Homo sapiens: one gene and its partners. The protein of the gene in region 3 binds, or shares a complex with, the protein of the main gene of each other region. Each region holds a gene or a part of one and is shown on either strand. Other genes may lie near its edges.

Evidence for each region.
Region 1: the proteins of WTAP (region 3) and ZC3H13 are in contact, whole or in part, in a cryo-EM structure (PDB 7VF2), measured with the Homo sapiens proteins. Residues at the interface, in NP_001257460.1 of Homo sapiens: Asp202, Glu203, Asp206, Phe207, Gln210; in NP_001317494.1 of Homo sapiens: Arg1512, Pro1514, Gly1515, Ala1516, Ala1517, Leu1518, Lys1520, Phe1521.
Region 2: WTAP (region 3) and RBM15B share a complex: the UniProt entries of both Homo sapiens proteins name them as parts of the WMM complex.

The regions. Positions count from the first base shown.
Region 1 is NC_000013.11:46,049,747-46,056,933, forward strand, and holds the start of ZC3H13 (zinc finger CCCH domain-containing protein 13), read right to left. Parts: upstream 3,001-7,187; 5' UTR 2,658-3,000; intron 2,244-2,657; exon of another isoform or gene 2,186-2,243; intron 1-2,185. Other genes in the region: CPB2 (carboxypeptidase B2 isoform 1 preproprotein), read right to left, coding at 3,868-4,052, 6,016-6,103. UniProt on the Homo sapiens protein: Associated component of the WMM complex, a complex that mediates N6-methyladenosine (m6A) methylation of RNAs, a modification that plays a role in the efficiency of mRNA splicing and RNA processing.
Region 2 is NC_000003.12:51,386,514-51,394,284, forward strand, and holds the start of RBM15B (putative RNA-binding protein 15B), read left to right. Parts: upstream 1-4,771; 5' UTR 4,772-4,886; coding exon 4,887-7,559; 3' UTR 7,560-7,771. Other genes in the region: MANF (mesencephalic astrocyte-derived neurotrophic factor precursor), read left to right, coding at 1,224-1,365, 2,392-2,576. UniProt on the Homo sapiens protein: RNA-binding protein that acts as a key regulator of N6-methyladenosine (m6A) methylation of RNAs, thereby regulating different processes, such as alternative splicing of mRNAs and X chromosome inactivation mediated by Xist RNA.
Region 3 is NC_000006.12:159,744,169-159,751,788, reverse strand, and holds part of WTAP (pre-mRNA-splicing regulator WTAP), read right to left. Parts: intron 3,599-7,620; coding exon 3,420-3,598; coding exon of another isoform or gene 3,416-3,419; exon of another isoform or gene 3,200-3,415; coding exon of another isoform or gene 3,139-3,199; exon of another isoform or gene 2,370-3,138; intron 1-2,369. UniProt on the Homo sapiens protein: Associated component of the WMM complex, a complex that mediates N6-methyladenosine (m6A) methylation of RNAs, a modification that plays a role in the efficiency of mRNA splicing and RNA processing.

The DNA of each region.
Region 1 (7,187 bases), on a different chromosome or scaffold from region 3:
TTTTTCAAATTATGTATGAACAGGCTGAACATGACAAGTAAATGCTTCAAAGTATATGAGAAAAATTAGAAACCATAAGATAAAAATGTAAATACTAAAGTCTTTCCTATCATAGAGAATAGAAATCAAGGTCATACCAATAACTTACTAATTTACTCTTCTATGAAGGTTTTCCTCCATTTTTGTTTTCAAATTATTATTTGGTTTAAGTTGCCATCACACTTCCACCCACATCATCAAGTCTTTCTCAAACACGAGCATTATCAAAGACAGAGTGGCACTAGTGAAAGCCTATTTCGTTATTTTCCTATTTCTCCTCTCCATTTGCAGAGCAAATGAATATCTGAAGTCTTTATAATCTCTTTTCAATTAAAAAAGAAAATGGAAAAAGAAAAAGAAAATCCGGGACACAAAGTTTGAGTCTATTAATAAAGACACAACAAAAGAGGGTCTTAAATGGGAACTGCTCCCTTGCCCCGAGAAACTTAGAATAACACTGTACTCAGAAGGTTCACATTATAATTATGGCTGAGAAAGGAGAAGCATACAAAAGGGTCTCTTTTTGAATAATGACTCCAGAAGCTCAATTAATAAAATCTTGTCAATAAACACATATGCGTTCTAGTATCTTCACTTCAATCCATAATTAATTATCTTTTCCAGGTCTCATCTACTGGAAGCATAAGTGAAAGCATAACACTTTAATCCGGATGAGTAGCGGCATAATATTAGGGAAATTTCAAACAATTAGGCAATTAAAACTACATGAATGTACTAACTAGTAGGATAAATCCCTATACTCTGAATTTCTAAGATTAAAAAGGTGATACTAAAAATAAGGTATCTTCACATTTATACTTCATATTTTTAGAAAGAAAAATTAACTTTATTTGATGCATAGTTTGAGAGAATTTTTTAAAAAGAACTTTCTAAAACAAACTTTCAGATTGCTTCCGTAAATTTAATGCTAAAACAATTCCAAACTAAATTCCAAATACAACTGACAGAACTAAGCTGACTACATAGGAATTAGCAAAGCAACACTGCAGTACTATGCAGAAAAAACAATTTGTTAAAAAGACTGTGCACAGAAAACATCCCATGCTGGTAGCTACTCTAAAGTGAAGTAAAAAGAACTGCATCATACAAAAATACAAAAAAAAAAGAATAAAAGACTCTTTCTATATCAACAGCAGTTAATGCTTCAACTACTACTAACAGCTGGAGAAATAGCTCCACCTCTATATGAGATGGAGTTGGGAGAGATGAGGAGGTGAGGAAGACTATCATCCACTGAAAACCAACTCTCTAAGTAAATTTAAGTTAAACAATGTGTTTCCTCTATGTAAATGCCAATGCATATTATAAATACTGATGATATTACAATTTTAATAATTTGTAAAGATGTTAAGATACCATCCACTTGCTGGATTTTTAGTATGTTAAATTCATATTACAAATATGAAAATCACATAAGCTTGCAAATCTCAAAATATGCAATGTTCATTTAGAATGACCAGTAATCAGGAAGCCAGTAAGAGGCATACATTTGATAAAACTGAATCCTACCAGATGCACAGAGTGAAAGCCTTAGTTTCAGAGTGCAACTATTTTTAAAGCCGCAATTGTTACAAGCTTGCATCAACTTTGCTAGTCTCTAGTTGAAACTGTCATCTGTTATAATCTAAATAGTTCATTAAGAAAATAAAAATTATTTGAAAATCTATAGATTGTATTCACAAAACGCTCCAATATATTGTACTAAAGCCAGTAATTTCAAATGTTACAGAACTAGACCCCGCTAACTGGCACCATATACCCATAGACTGAACTGCATAAGTATTTATTCTCCAACGGTATCGCGGACTTCGAAAACTTGAGGTGTAAAGATGTTTTCCAAATTTTTAAAACTACTTTAAAAATCCAAAAATCTTAAGAGACTTCATACTCCCATAATTTTCAAAGTAGTTCGAATTACCTGAAAGCCCCATAGTATAACCAAATACCTTAAGACTACCCTTCACAAACAACATCTTACCAACATAATTCAAGTATTATCAACTCTAAATAATTTTCAAACCACATAAATTGCGTTAGCCTATTACAGAGAGATAATGCCGCCAAACAGACTCTCTTCTTTCTATTCCACTTTCCCCCGTTTCTGACAGTTGCCAAAACTACCTACCTAAGGCTTGTGAAGATAAAGTAGCACTCAATTCCCAGGACCTAAATCGTTATCACTGCTGAGGGAAAAAAAAAAAAACAAGACCAATCACAAGTAAGATGTTTTTCTCTAACAGATCTGGAATGAGTATAGAGGAAGATTCTAAATTTAAGCCCAAATTGCTGCACCCTTCCATCGCACACAAATACGAACACCATACAAGGGTTCCCGTGCTTACATCAAATGGTAACGAGGGGTACAGCCTATTGTCTGAGTCTACTTATCGCCCTTAGACAAATGCCAGAATCATAATCAGAGTGAGAAATTACGCCTGAGCACAGGGGGCTATTGCAGAGTTAAGGGTGGGATGCTCAAGGAAAGCTCAAAATCCCAGTGACTCAAGCAAAGACGGGGGGGGGTAACCCGGGCCTCCGCATTACGGGTCCGCTCAATGCCTTCCCCAGATACCCACACCAATTCACAGAACGCTTACTTCCTCCCCAAGCTCCCTTCGCAAGTGCAGTCCGGAGGCACCACCGCCGCCGCCGCTCCGAGGAGCGGGGGAGGCGACTCTGTCCCCGCGCCTGGACCCAGGAGGACGACGACGAGGAGAAAGCGATGCGCGCGCGGCTCCCGGGAACCGGCTCTTGGCTAGCGAGGAGCCCCCGGGATGGCTGAGAAGCAGAACCAACCCGCCCGCCGCCTCTCCAGGGTCAAGCGAAACTGGGTCGCAGGAAGAAAAATAACGAAGAGATTGTAGATTAAGAAAAGGCAACAAAAACACTACCAGGCCGCTAGGAGGACCGCCTCAAAATGCCGCCGGAAGTCAGAGGTTTGCCCTGTTCCTCTGTAGACCCAGGCAGCTTCCGGCCGTCAGATTAGTCGTCAGTGCGCAGACACCACCCTTCGTGGACACGCCCTCTAGGCGTAAGGTTCCATGCGAGCGGTAAGAGTGCGGCGGGACTTGGAAATCGAATCTGTGCTCTGTGAGAGATCCTAGGAAAGGAAACTGGGAGCCCGGGAGAACTAAAATTCCCAATTAAAAGTGAATTTAAGTGAGTTTTCTCTTTTTATTACATAATTCCTTACCATAAACAGCTGTTGTAAATGCGCAAAATGCGGCATTTGTTGACAGTACCTAGAGCCACTCATTCATTCGTTCAACAGTGTTTATTGAGCAGCTGAGCTGGAATGAGAGGCTATGTTTGTCGTTTTTGACACCCCTCCCCTTTCTGGGCCATCGCCTAATTACCGTGGAGCAAACGGAATGCATGGTTGTATTTCTAAAGGCACAAGCAGAAATTTATTGAAAATTTGGAGCAGAAATCTTTAATGTACTTCTGACCACCCTTCCTTTTGTTGAGTAGGATCCAATGATCAGCGTGAGATGATCATTGATTAAACTTGCTTGAGATGGCTAGTCAAACGTCGAAACTTGCTTGAGATGGCTAGTCAAACGTCGAAAATCAAAGAAAAAGTAGGTAACTAGACTTTTACAATTTTTTTTAAAGGGTAAAAAGACATGAACCCTAGTCTGCCTTAATGGCAAAGTAGCACTTATTAGGTTCTCTGACAGAACCAAGGAATAGGAAAATCTTTTATCAAAACTACGGATAAAACTTAAAAATAATTTGATACAATGATTTGGTCTTGCTGGAATCAGTAAATTAAAATACGGAAGCAGAATGATAAAATCAGGGGCATTAAACATTCCTAATGACATGCCAAGCTATTTTAGAGACAGCGGCAAAAGCTTCTCTACAGGTGGGTTTGATGTAACGCTCCGGCAGCAAGAATCCGTATGTGCCCGTATCTCGAAGTTCAATTGTAAACGAATATTTGATGCCCAAATCATAGATCCAATCGTCCCCACCTCCAGGAGCTAGGTCTAAAAGAAGAAGAAAGAAATTGTTGAAATACAGACGTTTCAAATTAATTTACAAACTGGGAATTGTTTGATTTAAATGTTTATTTGTTTGTATACCTTTAGATTTTTTTCAGTTTTTAACTAATATAAACAACTTTACAATGAGTACCCTTGTTTATACATAATTGCTTCTTTGTCTCTTTAGAATATTCTTCCCTAGAATAGATTTGCTAGTCTAAGGCTCTGTACTTTTTGCAATTACGGCATGTTCCCAAATGGACGTCAAAAGAACTGAATTCATTTATACTTCCACAAGCAGGGTATGAATTTGCCCATTTCCCCTTCCCATACCATCAATAGGAATTATGAATTCTGATAATTTTATGGGCGAAAAATAATATCCAACTGTCTTAATTTATGTTTTTTGATTATCAGTGAGTTGCACATTTGTTTGGCATATTTATTGGCTATCTTTATATTTCCTATCAATTGTCCTTCCTCATTTGTCTACTTGGTTCATTTTATCAATTGCTTATAAAAACGACATTAGTGTTATTAGCTTTGTTTGGCATGTAGACCTTTTTTTCTCCTTTCATTCATTTCTCCTTTCACAAGAATTTTTTCTCCTTACTGAGATTTCAACTTGGTTTATGCAGGGTTTTCATATGAAAATATATGCTGTACCTGGAATTTACTTTGGTGAAAGACATGTTAATAATCCAATTAATTTTTTTCTAGGTAACTTGTTAGGTTTTCCAACCGCATTAATTGAATAATCTGACTTTTTTTGGGGGGGTGCTAAATTGAGTCCAGGTTTATGGCAAAGTCTGACCCAAAATTTTAATTTATAATTTTAGCATCTATCTAATACAGTTTGGGAAGCATCTCATGAAAGCTACAATTGCCAGAAGACTTGTTACAGTTTAATGCATGTTAACTAAAATGTGTACATATTTTAGTGTTCATGATAAATACAGTTTCGACCTTTTTTGAGATGGAGTCTCACTCTGTCACCCAGGCTAGAGTGCAGTTGCACAATCTCAGCTCATTGCCACCCCCACCTCCCAGGTTCAAGTAATTCTTATGCATTAGCCAACCAAGTAGCTGGCATTACAGGCGCCTGCCACCATGCCCAGCTAATTTTTGTATTTTTAGTAGAGACAGGGTTTCACCATGTTGGCCAGTCTGGTCTCGAACTCCTGACCTCAAGTGATCCTCCTGCCTCAGCCTCCCAAAGTGCTGGTATTACAGGCATGAGCCACAGCACCTGGCCTCTTTTTGTTTTTTTCTAATCATTAAAAAAAAAAAAAAAAGGAAAAACCTGGATTTGGCCTTCAGGCTGTAGTTTTCTGATGCCTGGTTACAGGTTTATTTTATGCTCCTCTTTTCCCATCTCCCTTCAAACTTCAAAAGGGCAAAATCAGTCTGTCCTCCCACTGTGTGTAGATAGGAGTTACTCACTAAATATCTTTCAGCAAAAATTAATCAAAACTTTTTGTTAAGAGTTTGTCACAAGTTTTGTGTGTGTAATATATATTAAAGACAATCAACTGTAATGTGTTATGAGCTATACTCTTGGGAACAGGCTAACACTAAAAAACACTTGATGCAAATGGCATGCCCTAGATTAGTGTAGTGTACAACCTGCACAACCTTCCATGGTGGCCCTGGGAATCATGCAAAAGTTTTATGAACTTTTCTGCTTCACTCAACTAGTATGATGCCAATTCTGTAATTCCTACTTGATTGTGATAAATATGATTTCTTAAATAGGATTTTGGCTTCTTTTTAGTAACTCATTTATTAATATAGCTTTGTTCAGCATTGTCATAGCTATTATGCTTCTGTTCCTAATTATTACAATTCAGTTGTATTACATGTGACCCTATTTAATTCAGAAAAATTAAATACACAAAGAAAAACAGATCACACAGATTTCTTTAGTAGCTCAAAGTTCTCTAAGATCATAAGAAGAAATACTTACATAAGGTTTCTGAGCCATGGCCATGTGTATACCTGGTATTTTTACTAATTTTCTCAATAGCACGAACTGCTTCACTGGCTACTAGAGACTGGAAGCAACAAGATATAGAATTTCAGTTAATGTGCAGCTTTGAAACATGACAAGTAGAAGTTTCTAAAAAATAATCATACATTAATTGAATCAAAGTATACAGGTAGAAAATCTAGATTCATCTAAAAGGCAAATAAATAAGGTAAACAAATTAATTTAAAATATGTGCACTTTATGGCAATCACAATTGGGTGGCTTTAAACATAAACTATTTCAATATATTGAAATAATTTATATAAATAAATATATTAATTTGCAGAAAAAAATTATCACATGCCTTTTTGGGAACTCATTTATTATGGAAAATGAAGTATAACTACATCTCAAAGGCTTAGAGGTACTCCATTTCTGAACAAAATTATCACCAAACTTTAAATCCAACCTTTCTAAACACATACAAACACCTAATGCATGCATGACTCACTTCTTATCCTTCTCACAACTTCTATTTTCTTCTTGTGTAAAATGTCTAATGACTTCCATAGATTCATCAAATCAAAAAAGATTATGCCTCTGGTATGGAGCAGGATAATAACTAAGACCCCCATTTGACTTCATTTTGTCTGTTGATATTCATTTTGTCAAATCTATTCTGAAGTTCTCACTTATCTGGAACTTTTCGGAAATTGGAACTAGCATCATGGTATACACTGTCACCTTCTTGAAAAACTCAAGAGATTTATCAGCGGATATTATTTTATGCCATCTCATTGTTCAAAAAATAAGTTTTAATGTAACCCCATTGTCTACATAATGAAATACAAATTTATCTGACAGTCACACCCCTTCAGAAGCCAACCTAATCTACTTTCTGATGCTATCACCCTCCACTTTTGCATCCTCTTATGGTGAACACCAACTTCTTTGCTTGGAAGGTCCTTCCTTCCCTGTCTGCCTATAGAAATCCTCTTTCAATGCCTGTCTAAAATGTAGCTGATCTTTGACATCAACAGCACTTTATTATTTGTAGTTTTTCCCCCCCTTAATAGATTGTAAATTCCTCAAGGACAGTAACTACTTTATCTCCTCACTTATCTCAGCATTTCCCTCTGAATGCATTAGTGAAGCCATCCCTTGATATT
Region 2 (7,771 bases), on a different chromosome or scaffold from region 3:
CAACTGTGATTTTTTTTTATCCTGTTAGTCTTTATTAAGCACCTACTATGTGCTAGGCACTGGGAATATCAGGGGAAAGAAGTGACAGTCGGACACACAAATAATGCAATGTCTGGGTGTCATGAAGAAAATGGACCAGCAGGTGCTGATTTAGAGTGGCCAAGAAGTCTCTGAGGAAGGGTTATCATTGAAGTGGGGTAAGACCATCCCATACAGGGAACAGCAGTGTGAGTGCCCAGAGGCCTGAAAGAGTGTGGCATGTATGTGGACAGGAGAAGGTGACAGGGTGCCTACAGGATAGGCAAGGGCCGAATCCAAGACAAAAGCCCTAGTGAAGCAATGGGTTTTCTAACTTGAATTTCTCTGACAGTCTCTGGCTTTTCTCTCTGTTAAAGGTTTGAACCCTGGTGACACTTAAATTCATTTGGTGGCTGTCAGCTTGGACTGAGCATGTGTTAAGAGTCCAGGGTTTACACTGGCTGAATCTGACTACCAGTACAGGCAGGGCACCGAAAAATGCCGCTGTGGGCCAGGTGCGGTGGCTCATGCCTGTCTTCCTAGCACTTTGGGAGGCCAAGGTGGGAGGATTGCTTGAACTTAGGAGTTTGAGATCAGCCTGGGCAAAGTGGTGAAATCCTGTCTGCACAAAAAAATTTTTAGGCTAGGCGTGGTGGCTCACACCTGTAATCTCAGCACTTTGGGAGACCGAGGTGGGTGGATCACCTGAGGTCAGGAGTTCAAGACCAGCCTGGCCAACATGGCAAAACTCTATCTCTACTAAAAAATACAAAAATTAGCCAGGCATGGTGACAGGCGCCTGTAATCCCAGCTGCTCAGGAGGCTGAGGCAGGGAGAATTGCTTGAACCTGGGAGGCGGAGGTTGCAGTGAGCCGAGCCAAGATTGCGCCACTGCACTCCAGCCTGGGTGACAGAGCAAAACTTTATCTCAAAAAAAAAAAAAAATTGTTTTAGTTAGCTGGGTGTGGTGGCCCACACCGGTAGACCCAGCTACTAGGGTGGCTGAGAGGGGAGGATCACCACCCAACAGATTGAAGCTGCAGGGAGCCGTGATCATGCCACTGCATTCCAGCCTGGGTGACAGGGAGCCCTATCTCAAAACACAAGTAAGGCCCTACAGAGAGATGATGTTTCAAGGTGTCAGTATGTTTGGAGGAGATGGCTCTCAAGCACCTCCTGAAGGCCATTGTCCTTTATTGCTCCAGTGCTACTATATCGGGGCCACAGATGATGCAGCCACCAAAATCATCAATGAGGTATCAAAGCCTCTGGCCCACCACATCCCTGTGGAGAAGATCTGTGAGAAGCTTAAGAAGAAGGACAGCCAGATATGTGAGCTTAAGTATGGTGAGTATGCCTAGTCCTTTCTTAATGAATGCTGTGCACCTTCTGGGTTTGTTTCCCATCTGGGAGAGGAAAATGATGAGCTAGAGTCATGAGTGGGTTGTATTGTATGACAGATGGTGCTAAATGCTGGAGGGCTCTGGCATGGAAGTGGGTGGAGGTCAGAATAGGCCTTATTGAAGAAGTGATATTTCAGCAAACTTTGAAGGAGGTGAGGATTAGCCAAGAGGCCAGCTAATGGAAGAGGATACAGGCAGGATAAAGGTGTCCAGTGGCATGGCAAGTCAGAGAGCATTGCAGGCTGGTGAGGGCTTTTAATCTGCGTGAAGTTAGGAGCATTAGGAGTTTTTCAGCAGAGAAGGGACATAGTACGACTTGGGTTTAACAGGCTGGTTCTGGCTGCAAGCTCTGAAGCCCCAGTGATTTTTACTATTCTGAAAAGAAACACTATGTCCAAGCATGCAAGCCCAAGAGTTAGGAACTACAGCATCTCTCTTGCTGACTGGGTCTCTGGTGTACATAGTCCCAGTCTTCAGAAACAGTCAGGGCCTCTTCTGAAAAACTTGAATGGCCAAGGACCTGTGTTCACCTACTTGCGTCTTCCTGGTACAGGTCCAGTTGGCTCCAGGTCACTGTGGTCATGGAGAGTAAGTTCCTAACTCAAAGGCCTGAGCAGGGCTGCTCTTTGGCACCAGCCTGGAGTTGTTAGTATGTGGTGACTATGTCAGAGGCACTTGGAAGATGGGAACCATGTTTCTCCTATAAGGACAGTGTGGCCTCTGTCCCTATCCTTGTTCACGCTGCATATCTGTAGTAGACATAATATGTAGCCAGCCTTCCTGGTGAAGAGGCTAGTTCCCTCTTGTGGGGGCAGTAGGCACTGACATGCCTGTAAATGTGTCTGGAAATGTCTCTTCCTCTGAAACCAGTAGGGCTGGTTTGGCCGTTCAGGGAGTGACATACTCTGGGACTACTGGGGGACTGCAGGTGCTCCACCCAGTCAGTGACTCTCCCTGCTCTCTCCTCCAGACAAGCAGATCGACCTGAGCACAGTGGACCTGAAGAAGCTCCGAGTTAAAGAGCTGAAGAAGATTCTGGATGACTGGGGGGAGACATGCAAAGGCTGTGCAGAAAAGTCTGACTACATCCGGAAGATAAATGAACTGATGCCTAAATATGCCCCCAAGGCAGCCAGTGCACGGACCGATTTGTAGTCTGCTCAATCTCTGTTGCACCTGAGGGGGAAAAAACAGTTCAACTGCTTACTCCCAAAACAGCCTTTTTGTAATTTATTTTTTAAGTGGGCTCCTGACAATACTGTATCAGATGTGAAGCCTGGAGCTTTCCTGATGATGCTGGCCCTACAGTACCCCCATGAGGGGATTCCCTTCCTTCTGTTGCTGGTGTACTCTAGGACTTCAAAGTGTGTCTGGGATTTTTTTATTAAAGAAAAAAAATTTCTAGCTGTCCTTGCAGAATTATAGTGAATACCAAAATGGGGTTTTGCCCCAGGAGGCTCCTACCAGTTTCTGCTTTCCAGTTGCAGAGTTTGGGGGGTTATTCATTCCCATTTATCTCTCAACCCACCAGTGCTGAAAATACCAGAGCAGGACATAGGGGCTGGGGCCAGCTGATGTGTGTGGGTGTGTACCACTAGAGGGCAGCAGGCACTCAGCAGAAAGGAGGTGGCGGGGGCGGGGGGTGCTGCGCTTGATACCCTGCCCCTTGATACAGTATCTGTCTTACCCGCCCAAGAGAGCTGGAGGCCACAGCTCTAGGAGGAGTGAGTCTGGGATACATTGGAGGGCCTTATATTGTGGCTCAGTACAAGCAAGACAGGGTGTCTGGAGTGTGGTTTTTCCACAAGGATATCTTCAATCAGTGCACGTCAGCACTGACATCTCTATAAAGATGCTGTTGGCCTGGCCACCTACTTGCTCTTTTGTCCATTCCAAGCCTCTGATGTCTGTTCCAGTTTTTGCAAGTCTGGCAGGAGTCAGCTTATACAAAGAGGGAGTGGGAAGCTGCCTTTTGCCTTTGTTTACCCTAGATTAGTCTAACAGTTGAGGTCCAGGGTTTTGCTGGAGTCTGCTTCTTAAGCCACTCTCTGTGGCACTGGTGCTTAGGAAACCCAGTTGTTAGTGTGAGCTGTGGCTCAATGAAGACACCTGTAGAAACCACCTGAAAGGACGGACTAAGAACCAGTGCTTTCCAAGTAATTGGTCTTGCCTCAGATCACTTCACTTGTGTCTCCTAAGCTCAGTTTGCCTGTAGGAGGCCTTGCTGCTGTGGAACCCATTGCTTTCTTCCAAGACCTTTCCCCCTGCACCTGCCTGAGCTACTCCAGGAGCTGCTTTCTCTTTGTGCGAAGAGGGCATGACTTGGTCTGCTCTTCCCCATCGCAAGGATTCTGTGCCAGAAATTGGGTCAGGTTCTACCATGGCTCCAGCAACTGTCCTTGGAGAATGAAAGCTTCCTCAATGGGCTTGAGCACCTGGGCACCCTTTCCCTCACCTCACCTGGGGAGAAGAGGTCGTCCTGAAGGTGATGAACAGGAGGGTACTGGCCAGCGAGGGGTCAGCGTGGCAAGGTGTGATAACTGCTGGCACTATCTGTGCATATGGCCTCTTCATCCTTGGCTCTTACGGCCCTACCTTTCCAGCCTGCTATCTGCCCACAGAAGAGGGTGGGACCCAAGAGTGGCGTTAAAGAGTCTATTCCAACTCCATCAACTGCAACTGCAGGCTTGTCTCTGCTTTCGGTTATTACCTGCGTGACAGCAATTGTCCTCACGGCCTTTTCGGGGACTGCTGCAGGTGAACCTGCACGTGGAGAATGCGCAGAATGTGGGCCTTGGGTCCTGGGCAGGGTCTAAGGATAGGCATGCATTAGTCCTTGGCGCCGTCAACGCCGGATCCCAGGCAGGAGATGCCAACGAGGGTGATGTGGGGTTTGCTCAAGCCTAGTCCTAGGACTGAGGGGATACTACATAAAGAGACCACTGACTGGGTCAATGCCCCAGATCCCAACGGCCATGGAAGCTGCCACTCCTGCTCCAATCAGCGCGGGCTCCAGTGCCTGCAAGAGGAGATAGCTGGACCCAGAGCGGCAAAGCACGGCTGGGAGCACAAAGCGTTAGGTCGTCTCGCCGGCCTCTCAGGGTTCACTACACTCCGCGTAGCCTCAAGCATCGGCCATGCGGGCCGCGCGGTGGCGCCAGAGCGCGCGGCCGGTCCCACTCACCCAGCACTCACAGGGTCACCTGGCACTGGGCGACGCAGCGCGATGAGGCAGGCCCGGCGCGGGTCTTGCTCCGCCCGCCGCAGAGTCACGTGGCAGGACGGCGCACCTTGATAACGCAATGCCCGGCCCCTCGGCGCCGCTCCCGCCCCGCCCCGCCGCCACCGCCGCGCCGAGTCCTTTTGTCCAAGATGGCGGCGCCGGGGGCGCTGCCTCCTCGGCCGCCGCCTCCGCCGCCGCCGCTGTGAGAAACCTACGGGCCGCCCGCCCGCCGCGCCAGCGCCATGAAGCGGCAGAGCGAGCGAGACTCTAGCCCGAGCGGGCGCGGCTCGTCATCGTCCGCCAAGCGTCCGCGGGAGCGCGAACGGGAGGCGGAGGCGGGCGGGCGGCGGGCGGCGCACAAGGCCTCTGGCGGCGCCAAGCACCCGGTTCCAGCGCGGGCCCGCGACAAACCCCGCGGCAGCGGAAGCGGCGGGGGCGGGCATCGCGACGGCCGCGGCACCGGGGACGCGAATCACCGCGCGAGTAGCGGGCGCTCCTCGGGCTCCGGCGCTGGCGGCGGGGGACGCGGCGGCAAGGCCTCGGGGGACCCGGGCGCCTCCGGCATGTCGCCCCGCGCGTCTCCTCTGCCGCCGCCTCCGCCACCGCCTGGGGCCGAGCCCGCGTGTCCCGGCTCATCCGCGGCCGCGCCTGAGTACAAGACGTTGCTCATCAGCAGCTTGAGCCCCGCGCTGCCCGCCGAGCACCTCGAGGACCGGCTCTTCCACCAGTTCAAGCGCTTCGGCGAGATCAGCCTCCGCCTGTCGCACACGCCTGAGCTGGGCCGTGTGGCCTACGTGAATTTCCGGCACCCACAGGACGCACGCGAGGCCCGCCAGCACGCCCTGGCCCGGCAGCTGCTGCTCTACGACCGCCCGCTCAAGGTAGAGCCCGTGTACCTGCGTGGCGGCGGCGGGAGCAGTCGGCGAAGTAGCAGCAGCAGCGCCGCCGCTTCCACGCCTCCCCCAGGGCCGCCCGCGCCCGCCGACCCGCTCGGCTACCTCCCGCTACACGGAGGCTACCAGTACAAGCAGCGCTCGCTGTCCCCCGTCGCTGCCCCGCCCCTGCGGGAGCCCCGTGCCCGTCACGCCGCCGCAGCCTTCGCCCTGGATGCCGCTGCTGCCGCCGCCGTGGGACTGTCCCGGGAGCGGGCCCTGGACTACTACGGGCTGTACGACGACCGTGGGCGCCCCTATGGCTACCCAGCTGTGTGTGAGGAGGACCTGATGCCCGAGGATGACCAGCGGGCCACGCGCAACCTCTTCATTGGTAACCTGGACCACAGCGTATCTGAGGTGGAGCTGCGAAGGGCCTTCGAGAAATATGGCATCATCGAGGAGGTGGTCATCAAGAGGCCTGCCCGTGGCCAGGGCGGTGCCTATGCCTTCCTCAAGTTCCAGAACCTGGACATGGCCCATAGGGCTAAGGTGGCCATGTCGGGCCGAGTGATTGGTCGCAACCCCATTAAGATAGGCTATGGCAAGGCCAACCCCACCACTCGTCTCTGGGTGGGTGGCCTGGGACCTAACACGTCACTGGCGGCTCTGGCCCGAGAGTTTGACCGCTTTGGGAGCATTCGGACCATTGATCACGTCAAAGGAGATAGCTTTGCCTATATTCAGTACGAGAGCTTGGACGCAGCCCAGGCCGCCTGTGCTAAAATGAGGGGTTTTCCCTTGGGTGGACCAGACCGCAGGCTCCGCGTGGATTTTGCCAAAGCAGAGGAGACTCGGTACCCCCAGCAGTACCAGCCCTCGCCACTCCCTGTGCATTATGAGCTGCTCACAGATGGATACACCCGGCACCGCAACCTGGACGCCGACCTGGTGCGGGACAGGACGCCCCCACACCTTCTGTACTCAGACCGAGACCGGACTTTTTTGGAAGGGGACTGGACCAGCCCCAGTAAAAGCTCTGACCGCCGAAACAGCCTTGAGGGCTACAGTCGCTCAGTGCGCAGCCGGAGTGGTGAGCGTTGGGGGGCAGATGGAGACCGTGGTTTGCCCAAGCCCTGGGAAGAGAGGCGGAAACGGAGAAGCCTTTCCAGTGACCGTGGGAGGACAACCCATTCACCATATGAGGAACGGAGTAGGACCAAGGGCAGTGGGCAGCAGTCAGAGCGGGGCTCCGACCGCACCCCTGAGCGCAGCCGCAAGGAGAACCACTCCAGTGAAGGGACCAAGGAGTCCAGCAGCAACTCCCTCAGCAACAGCAGACATGGGGCTGAGGAACGGGGCCACCACCACCACCACCACGAGGCTGCAGACTCTTCCCACGGGAAGAAGGCAAGAGACAGCGAGCGCAATCACCGGACCACAGAGGCCGAGCCCAAGCCTCTGGAAGAGCCAAAACACGAGACCAAAAAGCTGAAGAATCTTTCAGAGTACGCTCAGACACTACAGCTGGGTTGGAATGGGCTTCTGGTGTTGAAAAACAGCTGCTTCCCCACGTCTATGCATATCCTAGAGGGGGACCAGGGGGTGATCAGCAGTCTCCTCAAAGACCACACTTCTGGGAGCAAGCTGACCCAGCTGAAGATCGCCCAGCGCCTTCGACTGGACCAGCCCAAGCTTGACGAGGTCACACGACGCATCAAGCAGGGGAGCCCCAACGGCTATGCGGTCCTCTTAGCCACCCAGGCAACCCCCAGTGGGCTTGGCACTGAGGGGATGCCCACAGTAGAGCCCGGTCTGCAGAGGCGGCTTCTCAGGAACCTGGTCTCCTACTTGAAACAGAAGCAGGCCGCAGGGGTGATCAGCTTGCCAGTGGGGGGGTCCAAGGGCAGAGACGGCACAGGCATGCTCTACGCCTTCCCACCCTGCGACTTTTCCCAGCAGTACCTCCAGTCAGCACTAAGGACATTGGGCAAGCTAGAAGAAGAACACATGGTGATAGTCATCGTCAGAGACACTGCCTAGCCCAAGCCTGTCTTTCCCAGCGTCATGTTTGTGTCACAAAAGCAGTTATTTTAAAATCTGATCCCCTCTCTACCCTACCACTTTGGTTTGAATTATCTCCTGGGTTATTTTGGTTCATTTGGGTGGGGATCAAAGTCCTGTCCACCACCAAAACTAAGTTCTTAGATTTTGGGGGATTTTTTTTTTTAAACGATGAGAAGGGAATCCGGTTA
Region 3 (7,620 bases):
TGCCTGGCTGCATGTTTTCTAACCTAATGTAATTCAAGGAAAAGTTTGTAATTAAGCTTTCTTCCAGAAAATACCTGAAGAGTTCAACCTGGGTTACTACTGCTCAGAGGAGCCCGAGGGTGAAAGCCACCAGTGAGCATGTGGTAAAGGCTTTATTCTTTGATATGATAACTTTATTAGCTGGTGTTCTTGTTCACTGCTACTGTAGCTCCAGATTTCCACCATTTCCCATCAGCACTCTCAGGCGTTAGCCTCCACTGAACATCCACTTAGAAATTAAACAATGGGAAAATGAGAGATATGCAAGATTGTCAAAAACAATGGAATTCCTTCCACTTTACTGCCTATGCTCTCAAAACTGTCTTCTTGCAAAGTATATATATTTCATTGGTGTTTACAACTAACCTTCTTACTATATGAATTTTAAAGAGTAGAAAAAGACAACTGTAAGATACATTAATCTGTGACCTGACTTAACCCCATATAAAAATGTCACAAATTCTAATGCAAAAAAGGTTTCGTTTAAAAAGTCATACCTTTTAATAAATAAATGTCTAAGCTAAGATAGTCATATCACGTTTAAAACTAGTGATTAGTAAAATAAATTTTAACAAAATCACAGTTTTGAAAAAATAATTTAATTACAAGTAGTTGTTTTTGAAATAATTTTTTAAAATTACAAACAAAAAAATCAACCCATTCCTAAAATCGATTAACCCACAAACATAATAGAAAGCACTTTGAAAGATATACCTCTAAACACTCTAAAATGTGTGCATTCTCACATGAATGAAATATTTTAACTGAACTGGACAGGTTATTTCTGGGAATCTTTCTTCCTCAAAATTAGAACAGAAAAACAGTAAAGCGAAGACACACACGTGCGTGCGCGTGCACGCAACCCAAAGCAAAACCCATTCCACCACTGGAAATATTCCAGACGGGATTGCCTGAGCCATTATTTGTTTCAAATTAGTGATGTATTTATAGTACCTGATATACTCTGGCTTACAGCCAATTTTATAGAAAAAAATCCATTTATAAGTGATTCAAATAAATTATGATTCCTTAATATAACGGAAATATACTATGTAAGCATTAAAAATGTAGTTGTCTAGATACATTAAAAAATGGAAAAATGCCAAAGAGACCAAGTAAAAAAAAACAAGGTGCAACTCATCTGTGTTTATGGTATGATCACATTTGTTTAAAACAATATACATAAAATAACTGTATATGCATAGAAATTATCTTGATGATACCCAAGAAAAAGTAATAGCAGTTACTGCTCTTGGAGAAGAGAATGAGGATGTCAAGGTCACATCCGGGAGTGACACTCACTTTTCATCTCCCCCTTTCTCTACAGTATTTCAATTTTATACATAAGCATGTATTATCTTATTAAAAGAGAAAATTTTAACAATGACAAGAAAAAAACCATAGAACTCATGACTGTTATCTAAGTGTCAAAGAAAGATGCCTGCTCAATTTGAGTACATGTTAATAATACATTTTATGGATTACTCTTCTACTAAAATCTACTAAAAAGATACTTAGGCCATTTCTACTGTGAACTTAAATGGCATAAAATATTTACAAAAGCCTTAATGCAAGCACATAAGCTAATTTCAAACAGATCTGGTTACTTACCCTCCAACCCTCACAAATAGTGAGAATTTTAGAAGCAGATTTCTTGCTGAAAAGTCACACAAACCACTTCTTCAACCCACCCTCTGCCCCACAATCAGTTCCCTAAAGCACAAACATATGATACTTACAATTGATTTGAATGATTAAGAGAGAACTTAAGTCACCCTTGTTAAAACTGCACTTAAACGTTGGGACAAGCTGGAACATTTATCTTCCACTCATCTTAGACTCCATTATCACCAAGCGAAAATTTGAATTGGTGACTTATAGAATGATCTGACGGAAAAAATTCACCTCCAGGATTGGATGGAAGCATGAAGAAAATAATGCCTCATTTATCTAAATGATTAAATGAATTTGCTAGAAATGATCACTATACCTTTTTTCAATTCACAAAATGTCTTACTTAGGCCAGCCCACAGTTCCAACACATTATCTTCTGGCAGACACCCTGTGAAGCTGTCCCACATTACTTTCTACTGCAATACCCTGGGACAAAGTGTCATAAAAGTAACAAGTGTCAAGTCTCCTTGTCTTTTATGTAGGTCTTTTAAAAATGAGGCACAGCGCCTTTTCCTTCACTTTGAAGAGCACAGCAACAGTATTTCCAAAATGAATCTGCTCTCAACAGGCCCTCCCCGCCCCAAATTAAAATGTTAAAGAGTACAACAAAATCATCATAATATTCTTTGAACTTAAAAAAAAAAAAAAACCAACTATTTCAAGGCACATTTAATTTAATATCAAGAGTGCAATACAAAAGGCCCAAATACAATGAAGGAACACATTCCCCCATTAACACCAACGACAAAGCTCTTTTAAACATGTGCCTGTTGAATGGAACGGGGATTTCATAAAATTCACTAAAAAAAATAATGCAGTGAGTCTCATCACAGCTAATATCCTTATACAATCTAGTTGTGAAATGAATGTTTATAATGCTTCAAACAGTTTCAACCTGAAGTTTGATACCACACCTTCATGTTTGTACAGTCCTCAGTAAGATTATCTACAGTTTTTGCAACCATTCAAAGAACAAACCATTGAATAAAACCACATTGATTAAGGCTCAAGCAAGTAATATAGAGCCCCAAACTAAATGGTTAAATATATGCGCTACTTGTACGGACATCTATTATTTGATTCTCTCATGACTATTGAAAGTTGGTTCTCAGCAAATAAACCCTTTAAAGGCAAAATTCACCTCATTTGAGTTTTGACCCAGAAGTTCAACAACAATCATGAAGTCCACAGTCTTATTGGCAAAACTGATACACAGTGTCTCTAAGTCACTATGCTCAAGGTTAAGAGCGATGCATATTCCGTTTTTACATTTTACTGGAATTTTACATGTTCAATTCATGATTTAAAATCTCTAGGTTTTCATTCCTTCAAACTGTCTGAAGACACAGTGTGCCACAGACTTAAGACTTCTGTTTCTCCCTCTATTTTCTTCAAACAGAAACATTTCTCAAGTGTCTACATGTTCTAGAAGGGGAATTTTTCGGAGGTGGCCACTTCTTCGGAATAGTCCGACGCCATCAGGCCTCTGAAGCAAGGGGAAGGGGAAAAGAAAAAAGCTGAAACACAAGGTTCATCTGGTAAGTTTTACATTAACCATTACAAGCTGGACAGTGTAAGAATGTGGCTTTTTTTTGGCTCAAAAAGTCTGAGTCTTGGTGTGGAAACGAGTACTTGGCTGTCCCACCACAGCTTTCTCGTAGTGGGACTGTCAGGGAAGTCTTGACTGGGGAGTATGATTTGTTTACCTATCAGGCGTAAACTTCCAGGCACTCAGTTCATTTTGGGCTTGTTCCAGTTTGTCTTTAGTCTGTTCCAGTTCACCTTTCATTTTTAGGAAAAACAAGTTGATCGCTGGGTCTACCATTGTTGATCTCAGTTGGGCAACGCTCGGCTGCTGGACTTGCTTGAGGTACTGGATTTGAGTCTGTGCAAAGCAAAAGAAACAATTACGACCAAATCAAAGGAAACATACATAAGAAGGTGGGGAAAACTCCCTCCATTCACTTGATTTACCAACTCTTTCATTAAGCTCCTCCCCTCTTTGATCCTGAAATTCTCTAGAAAAATCTTAAAACTTTCTAGAAAAAGTACAGACTAAAAACTATTTGATGAATATGCTAATTACCCCGATCTGATCACTATACATTATATGTATTGAAACATCACTATGTAGTAGTCCTTGAATATGTAAAAAACTTATTTGTCAATTAAAAAAATAACTATTTAAGGTTACTCACTTAGGAATTGAGGCCATTTGATTACATCTCCAAATCTGGGACTTAAAGTGGCTACATACATTTTACTTTACAATCCAAACATTACCAAAAAACAAACGAAAATCAACATTATATTTACTAAAAATGCTGACAACCCAGTGGAAAAAAGCAAAGTTTAAAATATTAATTACCTAAGAGTTAATGAAGTCTTTGGTTTGCTTAATTTTTTACCTGTGGAAATTATTCTATGTAAAGTCCCCTAAAAATACATCAGGTGCAAGATTATAACTTAAAATACACATTTGAATTTCTAAAGGAAAAAATATACAGTACTTATAGCTACAAGAGTTGCTGTTACAGCTTTATAAAAGCAAAACTCTATAGGACCTTAAGCCAAAATAAAGTATAATTCATATTTTTCCCCTTCTGAATAGATCCGAATCATAGAATTGTAAAGCTGGAAAGTAACTCACCTAATCCAAACTGCTTATTTTGAGATTAAATAACCCAACTGTTTAGTTCAGTGCCATAGCGGGACTACAATTCTAGTTCTCCGGCCTTCTGATTCCCAGTCTAGAGCTTTTTCCACCATACCAGAACCCTTCTACTTACATATGAAACCTTCAATTTCGACTTCAGTTGTGCTATTTACTAGCACACTAAAAATACATTTCTAAAATATGAAATATAGTTATTAGCATTAAATTCATCATTTTCTTCATACTCAAAGTAGATCTGGCCCAAGATCTAACTCCATACTAAGGCTTAAATAGGATTACAGTTAAAATTTTCTAATATAAATTTAGTAAAAGGAACAAATATACTAAGTGGTTTGGGAATATATTTGTTTCACTGAGCAAAAATCTAGTACAACTGCATAGTCAATGTGAAGCCAGCTGCTAAGATAACAGAGCGAGAATAAACCATGACTTACAGTGCACTCCATGTACTGACAGGACTGATTAAAACAGTCTACAGCACTGACTGAGACTCAGTTACTATTTAGCTTTACAAAGACCCAATAGTCAACACTTTCATTCATGAAAAGAGAGGTGAATCAGACTAGAATAAATTCCATGTTCTAGGGAAGAGAACACTGAGTAAAGTGTTTTCAAAGTTAGTTTTATTCCTAAATCTATTTTGAGTTGATTGGCAAAAGACTAAATGAAAAACAGAAATACCACTGAGGTGAACAAAAATGACAGATTTTACTTACCAACAAAATAAAATATAGTTAAGAATACAGTATATAGTTAAGAATATAGTAACTACGTGGCTAATTTATGCCTTACGCTCAAAACTAACTAAATTGACTACTGATGTACTTGGCAAAGACTGCATGTAGACAAAGAAATAAAGCATTATTATTAAAAGATCAAATGGATGAGTTAGTATGCTGGACAAACAAAAGATCTACACAAATAGATTCCTAAGGATGTATATTTTATTTTTTCTAAGCTTAGCTTAATTTGAAACACCAAGGGTAAATGCAGCAGCTCTGTTTTAAAGGACAGGTACCTAATACAAACCTTTCCACTATTTTTCACTCAAGAGGGTAAGAAACCCTCCTTCTCAGGGCCAATCCTTTCAACCATTCGCTTAACCTATTCCCTCCAAACTCCTATAGTACATCACTCCCATTCTTTCTACTCTTTAAATTTAGTTTCTCTCACTTCCCACTTGACAGTTCCTCTAGAGCAGGGGTATCCAATCTTTTGGCTTCCTTGGCCAACAACCTCTTAACTGCCAAATCTAACGAACAATTTTAAATTCGTATTGTACAGAACTTTATGTATGCCTTTGTTTTAATCACTTTGTATTTTGGGGAAGGAGGAGGGAATGCTGGATTTCCTGTTTTCCTAACACCACACTCTACTCTTCTTTTAAAATTTGATCTTTGTAGGATCTATCCTAGTAGCATCGTTACTCAGTCAAACAAGACAAACCTGAAGCTGTGATTCCTCCCTAGATTTTTTTCATTCCTTCCACAACAGCATCCAAACTAAACAAGTCCTATTGATTGTGCCTCCAAAACACCTATTCTGTCCTGTCTGCTACCACCAGTGGCTTCATGTATTTCATCTGAACTATTTTAACAGCCTCACAATTGGTTTTCCTGCTTAAAGTCCTGTTCCTCTCAAATCTATCTTTCATACTCAAGTCAGAGTGATCTACCTAAAATGTAAATCTAAATCTGATCCATCACATACATCTCTTGCTGAAGAATTCTTCAGTAGTCCCCTCTCTTCTAGAATACCCAAGATTCCAGGCTGACCTCATCTTTTTTCACTCTCACCTGAAACTTTATCCTCATCTGCCATATATAATCTTGACCTTTCCTTGTGATTTTGCTCCTGCTGCCCTGCCCTGTCTGCAAAACCTCACTTGTATTATAATTGGAAGAACAGGAAGTTGTTCAGCTGGCGTATGCAGGTGACAGCTGTTTTAAAAAAAAAAAAAAGCTGGAAAAGGTTAGGTTCCATTATAGTTGAAATAACCTTAAAATCCAGGTCGAGGAGACAAGAGTGATGAGGTATCACCGAAGGCCTTGACCAGGCGTAATATGATCAAAACTGCCAGCGCATATAGGACAGATGGAGAATCAGATGTGCATGAATAGCACAAACATTGTGATGTGCACACATCAACTATGATGTCAAGAGTAGGAATCCGGAAGAGAAATGGAATTCAAGACATTCTGATCCTATGAGATATTACCATCAACACCTTCTATTCACACTCTATCTCCCAAGTGCTAGCAGTCTAAAGGTAAGATCCATTTCTCGTGTAAAGGGAAATTTGTTAAAACATTCATTAGTAACTATGGAGAAAGAAGTATCAGTGGTGGTAAGAATTACAACAAAACTGATAGAAACAAAAGGACAAAATGTGTTAAGAAGGTAGAGAAAATGATAATGGGCCAGGTGCGATGGCTCACACCTATAATCCCAACAGTTTTGGGAGGCCAAGGAGTAAGGATTGCCAAAGTACAGCAGTTCAAGACCAGCCTGGGCAACATAGGGAAGACCTCATCTCTACAAAAATTAAGAAATTAGCTGCGCTTGGTGGCGCACACCTGAAATCAGTTACTCGGGAAGCTGAAGTGAGGTGTGATTACACCACTGCACTCCAGCCTGGATGAGAGAGAGGCCCTGTCTCAAGAAAAGGGCGGGGGGGTTAGTGGGAAAAAAAAGTAAAGAAAATGATAAAAGCCAGCCTTTAGCAAAGTAAAATGTGAAGAAGTCATTTAGTAACAAGTGAAAGAAGAGTAAATACGTGCTTTTGTGGAAATTTAAACAATCTCTGTAAGGGAAGTAAAAGGACTGTGACTGAACCTTAAGGAACATTCTATTGGCAAAAGAAACAGAACAGGACTGTGCCCATAGATTTTTGGTGTCTCCAATGACCAGAATACTATCTTAGAAGACTTTAATAACACATAAGAAGACTTCTATATGTACCAAATGAAGGGAGAGTACACAAAGAATTGAAGAAACATTCAGATTTTAAAATCAGAAACAAGGATACAGCTGCCTCTAATTATTTTGTATAATTACACCGTAAGATTGAGCCTAAACTACCAGAGCTGGATGATCAATTATGTCACTAGATTTCAGATCTACGTAGACATAGTAAATACTACACAGTACACATCAAAGTTCTAACAATTAAAAAGGAGACACTAAAGAGGTTGCTGACACTAGGAAAAACAGTTCTATACACAGAGGGG